Homo sapiens: one gene and its partners. The protein of the gene in region 1 interacts with the protein of each later gene in a biochemical or structural test. Each region holds a gene or a part of one and is shown in the gene's direction. Other genes may lie near its edges.

Region 1 (3,722 bases):
TTCTTGGCCCAGTTTATATATAATTATTGGAATGTTAGGTAGATAAGTGTCTAAGAGCTAAGAATTTTTAAAGGCTGCACTACCATGGAGTGGAGCCGGGAGGCTGGGACAGAGTCAGCTATGACCGCTCAATTGCTGCTGTCTCATCTGGGCTCCTGTAACCAACTCTGGTCTGTTTGAGCCAGGCATCGTGGTTCTATCGCCAAAAGCCTACTGTGTTATAATCGTACACTCCTTTCTTTCACACATGCTCAGCCTGATCTTCGCTCTCCACTTTTCCCAGTTTTACTGGCTTTTTCTAACAAGTCTTGTTGAACTTGGGTTACCAGCAGACAAAAGGAAACAGAGGCAGGGCTCCTCTCTCCCAGCCGCCACCAAAATTGCCACCCCGTGTCATCTGTTTCAGTAGTGCCCACTCTAGAAGGAGCTATCCTGAACTTCCTGACGCCCTCACCATGCCACTGCCTGCTGTTTCTGGGCAGCAGAGGCTTCCTAGAGAAAGTCAGACTCAGGAGCTCTGCCTTCACCTGGTTATCACCACTGCCCACCTTCTGTTGACTTCCCATCAAGGCTGTTTGAATCTTTTCCAGGGTCAGGTAAAAGCTGTGCATCTCCCCAGTGCTCAGGGTTTGTGACAGTTGGGAGAAAGGCAGGGGACACGAAGTCACTGCTCTCCAAACCTGCCCTGTCCTTTTCCTACTGTCCGTCTGGTTTCTGCTCCACTCAGCCTCTGTCCCACTTCTCAAGTCCCTCATGAAATGAAGCCTCCTGCTGTGCTTAGTGCTGTGCTGTGCTCAGTGCTGGGATGGGTTCATGTTCCTGCAGAAATTGTGGACAGGTAGTCAGGTGAGGAGCAGGGAGCACTGGGGATGCATGCACACCTGGCAGGAGAGGGTATGCCAGGCATGGCTTCCGGGAGAAGTAAAATCTCAGCTGAGACAGGCAAACTGCATAGGTCGGGTGAAAGGGGCAGGGAGGGAATGAGCGTTCCACACAGAGGCAGGGGGTGTAGAAGCACAAAGGAGGGGGTCGTGGTGAGGAGGTGGAGGGCTGAGCCGGGGCCGGGTCATACGGGGCCTTGGCAGCAGTGCAAAGGAGCTTGGACCACATTCTTTGTTTCCACTCGGAAGTGAAATACTGGACTGAATAGTCTTTGAGACTGATGTAGGCCACACTGATTATTTTACTTGAGATTTTTGTGACCATGAGAATATCATCTGCCAAATCCCTGTAGTAGTGGGCTAACAAGATAGTATTCTGGTCATGTGAAAACCCCAGCCCATTTCCCAAAGGACTTACTTTGTCTCTGATAAGAGGTTTGGTGACAAGTTTGAAGGCTCCAATGTATACAAGTGAGAATAGAAAAGATATTTTCAGCCCTAGAGGTGTTTATCAACTGGCTAACATGACACCACTGAGAGCATTAAACAGCATAAAAATAATGACAAAGCTGTGATCAGCAGCTGCAGATGGTTTTTGTACACATTGACCATCTAGGGTGAGTAAAGGGGAGTTCAGGGAAGGCCCACGGGGCAGAAGGTGAGGCCAGGGATTGGCCTAGAGGGGAAGCAAAGGCAGACCCAATACCAAGGAGCTAATCTTTTGCTAAGCAACGTGGTCTGGAACTGGCGGCCTGAAGTGCTTGATTACCAGGGATACTGTTGCAGATGACTGGGGAAAGTCAGATCCTCCAAGCCGAGCCACCTGCAATTCAAGGTAGAATCTGGCAGAATACATTCATTCCTGTGTGAAAAATTCGAATCAGAGTTTTCTCTAACTGCTTACCAGATAAACTACTACTTGGCTTTCTTTACTTCTTGCCCTTTTTCTTGCTTCTTACTTCCCTCCTTTCCTCCTCTCTCCTTGTTTCCTTCCTTCCTTCATTTCCTTGTTCCTTCCTTCTTTCCTTGCTTGCTTTCTTCCATCCTTCCTTCCCTCCTTCCTTTCCTTTCTTCCTTCCTTCTCCTTAACTTTATAATTTGGTAATGTCTTCCTTAAAAACCTGACTTTGGAACGATACTACACTTTCTATTCAGCAACGAGTAGTAGTTTTGCCTCCCTATGTTATTGTTGTGTTTAAATCCTGGATTCTTTCCTGCTGTCATACTTTGTCATGAGAGTGAATCTTGCCGGGCGTGGTGGCTCATGCCTGTAATTTCAGCACTTTGGGAGGCTGAGGTGAGTGGATCACCTGAGGCCAGGAATTTGAGACCAGCCTGATGAAACCCCATCTCTACTAAAAATACAAAAACTAGCATGGTGAAACCCCGTCTGTACTAAAAATACAAAAATTCGCCAGGCATGGTGGTGCGTGCCTGTAATCCCAGCTACTCGGGAGGCTGAGGAAGGAGAATCACTTGAACCTAGGAGGCGGGAGGTTGCAGTGAGCTGAGATCATGCTACTGCACTCCAGCCTGGGGGAGACAGTGAGACTGTCTCAAAAAAAAAAAAAAAAGAGTGAATCTTTGTGATTGTCCTGGAGGGAATGTGCAGAGAGAACTTGGAGAGCCAGTTCCATGGGCTGTTGATTAACCTGACAGAAACGACATCCTGTTCTTGATACCTTAATAATTTATTTGTATTAGCATGTCACTTTCTCCAACTCTATTTTCATAGTTGGTTCAGGCTGCCATAATAAAATTCCATAGACTGGGTGGCTTAAACGAGAGACATTTATTTCCCACAGTTTAGGGGCAAGGAAAGCCCTGGCAGGTTTCATGTCTGATGAGGGGCCATTTCCTGGTTCATAGATGGCACCATATAGCTGTGTCCTCACGTGGTGGAAGGGGCAAGGCAGCTCTCTGGGGTCTCTTTTACAAGGGCACTAATCCCATTCGTGAGGGCTCCACCGTCCTGATCTAATCACCTGCCAAGGCCCTGCCTCCTAATACTATTGCCTCGGGGTTCAGGATTGCAACATTTGAACTTTGGGGTAGGGGGCGGGGAATGGGACACAAACATTCAGACCATAGCATCTGTTTTCTGATTTGAGAAACTGGCATAATAACATCTATGTATCTACATGGATGAATTTAGCAGGGTCTTGAAAAGATTCTTCACACATTAGAAAATGTTAAGACATGGCCAGGCGCGGTGGCTCACGCCTGTAATCCCAGCACTTTGGGAGGCCAAGGCGGGCGGATCACGAGGTCAGGAGATCGAGACCATCCTGGCTAACATGGTGAAACCCCGTCTCTACTAAAAATACAAAAAATTAGCCGGGCATGGTGGTGGGTGCCTGTAGTCCCAGCTACTCGGGAGGCTGAGGCAGGAGAATGGTGTGAACCCAGGAGGTGGAGCTTGCAGTGAGCCAAGATAGCGCCACTGCACTCCGGCCTGGGTGAAAGAGCGAGACTCCGTCTCAAGAAAAAAAAAGAAAATGTTAAGACATGTTCCTTTTTTTTTTTTTAAGATGACCATTGTTGGAGATTTGGCAGAGGGTGGTCAGTTATTTTAGAAAGGGCTCAAATGGTGATTGCCATTACCCACTGTCTTTAAAAGCTGAATGATCAAAATAGTATACATGAAAAGATTTCAGGAATTCATAAGTTTTCCGGTTTTCCTTGATGGCACTTTCCAGTCACCTACCCTACATATGAAAATGGGAGCCTATTTCTGTTTTCAGATTGCAGAGGGAATGGCATACATCGAGCGGAAGAACTACATTCACCGGGACCTGCGAGCAGCTAATGTTCTGGTCTCCGAGTCACTCATGTGCAAAA
Region 2 (3,379 bases), on another chromosome or scaffold:
GAATATTTGGAACTGAGATTGCCCAAAAAGGCAGAGGCAGCCAGCCACATAGTATCTGGAGGTACATGTGGCCTGAATTGGAAGGCCTCTAGAACCTGCGTCAAGAATGTCTCCATCGCCACCACAAATTGAAGGGAAACCACCCTTATCACAGAGCAGGAGGCATTGAAACTGGCCTTGCAGAGCTGAACAGGTGGTGAGAGCAGAGCAGTGCAGGTGGACAGAGATGAGGAAGTCTTAGCAGTCAGCTGGGGTTTGTCCAAGGCTTGTGGTCAGCCAGGCCGTGTGCTGGGGACAGTCCCTGCCTGCAAAGAGCACCGTGTGAACAAGGCCACTGTGGTCCTGAGGGGTGCTCTGGACAGGGTGCAGGGCCACATGGTGGAAGGGACAGGGTGCTTTGCGGAGTGGGGTGGGGCAAGCCTCTGTCGGGAGCTGGCATTTTCGTTGACCCGGACGAGGAGGAGTCTGCTCTGCGGAGATCATGGGGACAGCCTCCCAAGCTGAAGGAAGGGTAAGTGCCAGGGCCCTGAGCCTGCAGCCACCCGCCAAGCTCCCCCGCACCTCCACCTGGAAGCAGACAGGCCATGGGGCAGGGGAACGGGAAGGGTGAGGAAGAGGGTGTGGGGGAGCGCGGAGTTAGAAGTTTGCATTGTGTTCATGCGCAGGGCCCAGTCATGGAACTTGAGGCACAGGGTGCCATGGTGGAGGCTGGGAAGGGGAAGGCAACCAGAGTGGGCAAAACGAGGGCCCTGGAGCAGACACGGCAGCAAGGGGAGCCTGCAGCGCTCCCAGCGGACTCCGCCACGTCCTGCTGGTGGAGCAAAGGCGGGCTGCCATGTTGTGAGTGGCCAAGGGTCGCTCACTGGGCAGGAACATTGTCAAGGCCATTCATGCTTGGAATAGGGTCTCTCTTCAGCTCTGAGGCAAATCTGTTCTCTAATTTTCAGATGACTTCAAGGGGAACGTGTACCACCACCCCTCTGGTGCGTCACATTGCTTAGGAAGCCTGCTGTGTTTATCACTGGGTGGCTGTCAGGGCTGAGATGGAGAGGGCCAGGGCCTGGCGAGGTGGAGCAGTCGGCCCAGGTGTCCCAGCAATTGTTGCTGGAACAGGGTCTGGAACCCACAGGAGAGGCCTGAAGGACCCAGGGCCCTCTGGCTGGATGCGTTTGCCTATCAGGACCCAGAATTACTTACAGACCTGTTTAGGGCTAGGCTTGGCCTCTTTCTTGAGCTCATCTGGAGGGGTGTGGCAACACTCATTCTTCATCCTTATTCTCCCTGGCTGTGGGCAACACTGGTCCTCAGTGTCACCAGATGGTCCTCCTCTGTGCCCATGACCCCTCAGCAGCCAAGGCTGGCCCTGCCAGATAAATGTGTGTGCCCATGATCACACCCAGGGGCACAGGCCACATACGTTTCCCTGAAACCTTGGGCTCCAGCCTCCATCCCGTCCATGTGGGAGGGAACTTGGGTCCCAGCAGTGTGTCTTTCAGCACCAAGTCATGTTTAAAAGACCAGAGAGACAAGCATTTTGCCAAGATCTTCCAGGGAAGATGCATGTGTGACACATTAACATTCAAATCAGGCCAGCGCGGTGCTCATGCCTGTCATCCCAGCACTTTGGGAGGCCGAGGCGGGAGGATCACTTGAGCCCAGGACTTGGAGACCAGTCTGGGCAACACAGTGAGACCCCATCTCTACAAAAAGTTAAAAAAGAAAAAAAAAAGGGCACATGTCTGTAGTCCCAGCTACTCGGGAGGCTCACTTGAGCCTGGGAGGTTGAGGCTGCAGTGAGGCATGATACGCCTCTGTACTCCAGCCTGGTTGACAGAGTGAGACCCTGTCTCAAATAAGTAAAAATAAAATTCAAATCGGTTACCTTAGTTTGGAAACTTTTCAAAGAAGTAGTCCACGAGAACTACCTTGAAAGAGCAAAACCAGCCAGGTGCAGGGGCTCACGCCCATAATCCCAGCACTCTGGGAGGCCCAGGTGGGTGGATCTCGTGAGGTCAGGAGTTCAAGACCAGCTTGGCCAACATGGTGAAACCCCATCTCTGCTGAAAATACAAAAGTTAGCTGAAAATACAAAAGTGGCACATGCCTGTAATGCCAGCTACTGGGGAGGCTGAGGTAGGAGAATTGCTTGAACCTGGGAGGCAGAGGTTGCAGTGAGCCAAGATTGCGCCATTGCACTCCAATCTGGGGAACAAGAGCAAAACTCTGTCTGAAAAAAAAAAAGCGACACCACATGGGAGGATGTTTCTTGGGGGAGGTGTGCTATGCCCGAGCAGGCTCCAGCACCAGGGGCGCTGGTGTGTCAGGAGCGCGCCTCCAGGCCGGTGTGAACTCTGCAACTTCACATTGTGCCTCCTGCCGCCGCTGCTGCTTCCCCGAGCCCCAAGCTCAACCTGGAGCATGAGCTCCCACCCTGAGGAGGAGGCTGTCAATACTGTGTTTCTTTCCAGGGAGGCAACGGGTGGGTGCGATGTTGTCACTTAAGTTGCCACCTCTGCATAAGAGCTCTCTGATCAGAAAGCAGTTTCTTTGTTGACCCCAGCCAGCCTTGGCTCTCGGGTTGGGAAATACAGTCACGGTATCCATGGAGACCTCTTGAGGTGGAGACGGGCGTTAAATCCTTCTCAGGCAGTCTGAGGTGGCCAGAGTCTGAAGCAAGCAGCCTCTATGGAGCGAGGGGAGCAGGTGGGCCCAGCCTGAGCGGGGCCTCTGCACAGCCAGCTTTCCCCCACACCTGTCTCCAGCCAGGGCACCCACAGGCCCTTTCTCTCCCAGGATGAAGCCTGCTGGGAGCGTGAATGACATGGCCCTGGATGCCTTCGACTTGGACCGGATGAAGCAGGTGAGCATGCCCTGTGCCCTTCCCTCAAGAGGCTGAGGGCAGCCAGCAGGCGGGGGACCGTCTCTGACCAGCATGGCCAGGCAGGCCCTGGGGGCCCACATGTAGCTGCCAAAAGGCCAGTCAGGGAGCAGCCACGGCAGAAAGGGGGTGCCCAAGCCTGTCCTTTGTCCCCAGCCCCTGCCATCACCAGAACTAGGATGTCCCTCAACCTTTCTGGGCACCTCCCTCAGGCCTGCCTCTGGGGCTTTCTGCCCCGAGGAAGCCCTTAGTTTCAGTGGCGTCTACCTGAGGGAGGTGGCAGCAGGATTTTCCCAGGCCTCCCATGCCGTCCCCCCTCAGCGTGGGAAGGGGGCCACGAGGAGACAAGGGTGACAGATGCAACTCTGGAGAGGCCCAGGAGACCCCAAGCCCTTTGGACATGGCCCAGCCCAGGCCGGCTTTTCCGTCTCCACTGCCTGTCCCTTCACCTGGACACTCCTCTCCCAACAGGAGATCCTAGAGGAGGTGGTGAGAGAGCTC
Region 3 (3,953 bases), on another chromosome or scaffold:
GCACCTTTAAACACTCACATGCACACTGGCACTTCTTTTTATTTTCTTTCTTTTTTAAGAGACAGGGTCTTGCTCTGTTGCCCAGGCTGGGGTACACTGGGGTGATCATAGTTGGCTGTAACCTCAGATTCCTGGGCTCAAGTGATCCTCCTGCTTCAGCCTCCCAAAGTGCTGTGATTACAGGTGTGAGCCACAATGCCTGGCCTCTTCCCTCCTTTTCTGGTATTCAGCTCCCTTCTTTTATCAACCATAGCACTTTATACTTTTTTCATGGCAGTTGACCTATTGTACTTAAAAAACCTCTTTATTTTGAGAATTATAGATTCACAGAGAGTTTCAGAAATAATAGAGGAACTCTGTCTACCTTTACCCAGTTTCCCCCAAGGGTAACATCTGGCACTATTACAGTACCATGTCACAACCAGGACACTGACACCAACTGTCCCTTGAATGAGACCGTGTGATTTTGTCCTTCACTTTCCTCCCTTCCGCAGCTCCTGGAGGGAAAGGGCTCTGTTCTCCTCTCCCTCAGCTTTCTCCCTGTGTTACCCCTTCCTTTCCTCAGGGCCTTTCCATCCTGAGGGAGAACAGCACAGTTTGGTTTCCTGTGTCCCTTGCTGCCACGCTGCCGCGATTCTCCCAAATGTTGGTGTCCTTATATTGCTTATTGGGAATTAATCATTTCCTTTCAACATTGTGGCTTCCCAAAGAGCGAAGTTTTGCCCTCTTTTCTGGGGATGGAGATGTGAACTGGACCGGCAATTGAGGGGTGCTATGCTTGACGGGGATCTCTTCCTTGGATTCTGCCTCCCTGCACCCTACTTCAGGCACCCCGTGGTCTTTCAAATCTGCCACCGTGAGGTCAACTGTTCGGTGCTTAGGATGGAGTGTCCAAAGCCGTGGGTCCTTTGAGCCTTGTGAAGTCTTTTGTTTTGGTGGGTGCTGGAGGGGCGCACCTTTGGCCTCGCACGGTGCGGTGCTTCCGGCACCCCCAATCCTTCTACCGTGGGGCTCCGGCGTGAGCGCCACGTGCACCCACGCCCCGCGCCCCGTTCCGGTCCCCGCCTGCCGCCCGCGCCACTTCCTGACGCGCCCGGGGACCCACGGCCCCGCCCCGCGGCCGGGCTGGGCGGGCGGCGACCGCGGCTGAGGTACAGGTGCCTCGCGGTGCAGCCGGGTCGCCTTCCAGCCCGTCCGCCTCCCGACCAGGGCCCGCGCCCCGTCCCGCCTCTCTCCCGCCCAGCCAAATGCAGGCCGCCGCCCTCCCTGAGGAGATCCGTTGGCTCCTGGAAGGTAACGCCCTGGCGCAGGCCCCCTCCAGTGCTGAGCCGAAGGCCGAAAGGGGACACCAGGCCTCCCACGGCCAGGCTTTCTTTACGGCTTCGTCACTCACCTCCTTCTAGAACCTTAAGGCTTCTAGAGCCCTCAACTCCCTAGAGCCAGCTTTCCATCCTCTCACCTCAGGGCCCCTTTCACTCCCTGGAGTCCCACATCTTCTTTTGCCTTGAGGCACCTCCACGCCTCCACTTCACCTCCCCGGCTTCTAAAGTCCTCAGGCCAGGTTCTTGGTCCCCCATGCCACCTTGCCTGGTCTCCGACCTGTCCCTTTCTCCAAAGGACTGCCCTACATCTGTAGGGTTTCCCGTCCCCCTCCTTCCCCAGCCACGACTTCCTCACCTCTCACAGAAGACCCCAAACCTTCCTGCTTAGAGGTCCCCGAGGCTCTCCAGGGGGCTGCGAGGGGCTCATGGGATCCCCATGGGCCAAGGCCAGGTGGTTGACGTGAGTTTTTGTCAGTGCGAAAACCCCAGCCCTCCCTTTATCACCCTGCAGACGTCTAGGGGTCTCACCCACCCCAAGGCAGGCTCATTCTCAGTATGGGATTTCCTCCTTTTCTAGAAGTGCCCCCATTGTGGTGTGTTCACCTTCCAACTCCCATTGTGGTGTGTTCACCTTCCAACTACAGTGTCTAAGCGGTGGTTTAAAGAGTTCCGGCCATCCCCGTCAACACTCAACACACACTGCCAACACTCCAAAGAGATGTCACAAAGAGACGTTGCTAACGGGCAGTTTCATCTGCTGGGTTTCGTGGTGGAAGTCACTTTTACTTGCTTTCCTGTAACTAACCTTCCAGGGAGGACAGAGGCCTGGAATCTGCAGTCGCATAAGGCTCCCAGGAGGAAACTATTCAGAATTAAGCCTTTTGGCATCTAAGTTGACATAGTTGACACATATTTAACAGACGGCCTGCTTTGGGCAGGTCATATTTTTGGCAAGCAGTATTTTTTTTCAGTTTCTCTCAATTTAATTGGTTTTATATCTCCATTACCTTGTTATCTCGGTATAAATGCCTCCTAATCAAATATTTGGCAAGTCCTTTTGGTCTCTGTCTGTAGCACTATTTCCATTCTGGATTGCTTCTATGTAAAAGCTGTCAGCTAGATATTTCTTTTGAGGTGAGGTTTCCAAAATCCGTTTTACTTACGATCAGAATAAATCTAAATTTTGGGGGTAGAAAACTATTTGCAGGGTAAAAGAGAATTATCTGGGTGTCTAAGAAGAAACAATCCAGCCTTTCCCTCTGTTGTTGGTTTAATATTAGGCTTGTGAAGGAAGGCTGTAATTGTCTTTGGTTTCTAGGAAAGAAGGGACTGTGGCAAAAAGTTTAACTCTGCCCTTGCATTGAAATATATAAACTGATTCTTTTTATTGGTATCTGTCATTTGATGAGAGGAAACCTATTTTATAAGCTTATTAAACTATACTTCAGTTTTGTGTCTAGGCTTGGTAGAAAATTCCTTTTTATTTTCAGAGGCTTGCAATGAAATCCATTCCTTCAGCATTTTTGATGTGCAGTTCTTCATTGTTCAAAACTGACACTTTGGTAAACAACTCATTTCTGCACCTGCCACCTTCCTTTAGCTTAGATTATTTTCTTGTTAGCTGACTGTTTTTAATTGAAGTCTTCAGATCTCCTTCTAAAGCAGAACCTTTGTTTGCTGACAAGTAGAGCGGGGTATGAATGGAGATTAATTGCATGTCGCATACTTCTGTATCAAGCTTGCTGTATCTTAACAATCTCTGTTGGTGCTCAGGTCTTTAAAATATATGGAGGAGTCTGAAACCAAATTATAAGGAGCTTCGTTGGTTAATGTATTTCTTTAAGGCTTTTTTTTTTAAGTTTGCAATTAGAACTTGAATCTGAAGTAGAGAAAAAAATGTAAAGTGTGATTCATCCAGTAATTCTATTGAAAAATGTTTGAAGATATGTTTTTTAAAGGTTCCTGTAATAATAATAGCAATATATTGGTTACAAGTTTTATTTCTTTTGGAACACAGTCGCTGGTGTAGACCAGGAGGATTATTCATTGTGTTACAAATAATCTGTCCATATTAGAAACCCAAAATGGCCATCAATTTGTTGTTTGTTGCTATTTGTCTCCCCCACCACACACTTTTTAAGGTTAACTGTTGACAATTAGAAAAAATGGAGGTCCTGATCTCTATATAGTCACTCTGTGGGAGGGAGTCACAGGATGTGAGGGCTGCAACTCTAGTGCTGCCACATGGCTGTGGGGGTGGGGTTTCCACAATGAATTACTACTTTCATAAACCAAGGCATAAGCATTTGCACAGTGATTTAACACTGGACATCACAGCCATAACTTAAGCATTTATTTATTTATAACTACACAAGCATAAATGACAGGGGCATTTTTTGACATAATGTGTGTGCTTTTAAGAATAAAATATGTAAAGCATTGTGAAAGGTAGATAACAAAATTTTGCATAATGAAGAGAACAGAAATTCCCAAGGCCTAAAATTAATTTTGTTTAAATATAAAATTTGAGACACTTGGAAATGTTTCACTCGACCTAGAAACCTCACTTCTAAAAATCTGTCACTGAAGTGAAAGGTCATGAAGTAGTATATGCACGAAGATCTATGCTAA

Evidence for each region.
Region 2: the proteins of LYN (region 1) and EVL form a complex in vitro, tested with the Homo sapiens proteins (one study listed by BioGRID).
Region 3: the proteins of LYN (region 1) and SKAP1 form a complex in vitro, tested with the Homo sapiens proteins (one study listed by BioGRID).

The regions. Positions count from the first base shown.
Region 1 is NC_000008.11:55,994,721-55,998,442, forward strand, and holds part of LYN (tyrosine-protein kinase Lyn), read left to right. Parts: intron 1-3,625; coding exon 3,626-3,722. UniProt on the Homo sapiens protein: Non-receptor tyrosine-protein kinase that transmits signals from cell surface receptors and plays an important role in the regulation of innate and adaptive immune responses, hematopoiesis, responses to growth factors and cytokines, integrin signaling, but also responses to DNA damage and genotoxic agents.
Region 2 is NC_000014.9:100,138,387-100,141,765, forward strand, and holds part of EVL (ena/VASP-like protein), read left to right. Parts: exon of another isoform or gene 1-511; intron 512-947; exon of another isoform or gene 948-978; intron 979-2,793; coding exon 2,794-2,860; intron 2,861-3,349; coding exon 3,350-3,379. UniProt on the Homo sapiens protein: Ena/VASP proteins are actin-associated proteins involved in a range of processes dependent on cytoskeleton remodeling and cell polarity such as axon guidance and lamellipodial and filopodial dynamics in migrating cells.
Region 3 is NC_000017.11:48,427,415-48,431,367, reverse strand, and holds the start of SKAP1 (src kinase-associated phosphoprotein 1), read left to right. Parts: upstream 1-1,153; 5' UTR 1,154-1,247; coding exon 1,248-1,293; intron 1,294-1,435; exon of another isoform or gene 1,436-1,758; coding exon of another isoform or gene 1,759-1,782; intron 1,783-3,953. UniProt on the Homo sapiens protein: Positively regulates T-cell receptor signaling by enhancing the MAP kinase pathway. Required for optimal conjugation between T-cells and antigen-presenting cells by promoting the clustering of integrin ITGAL on the surface of T-cells.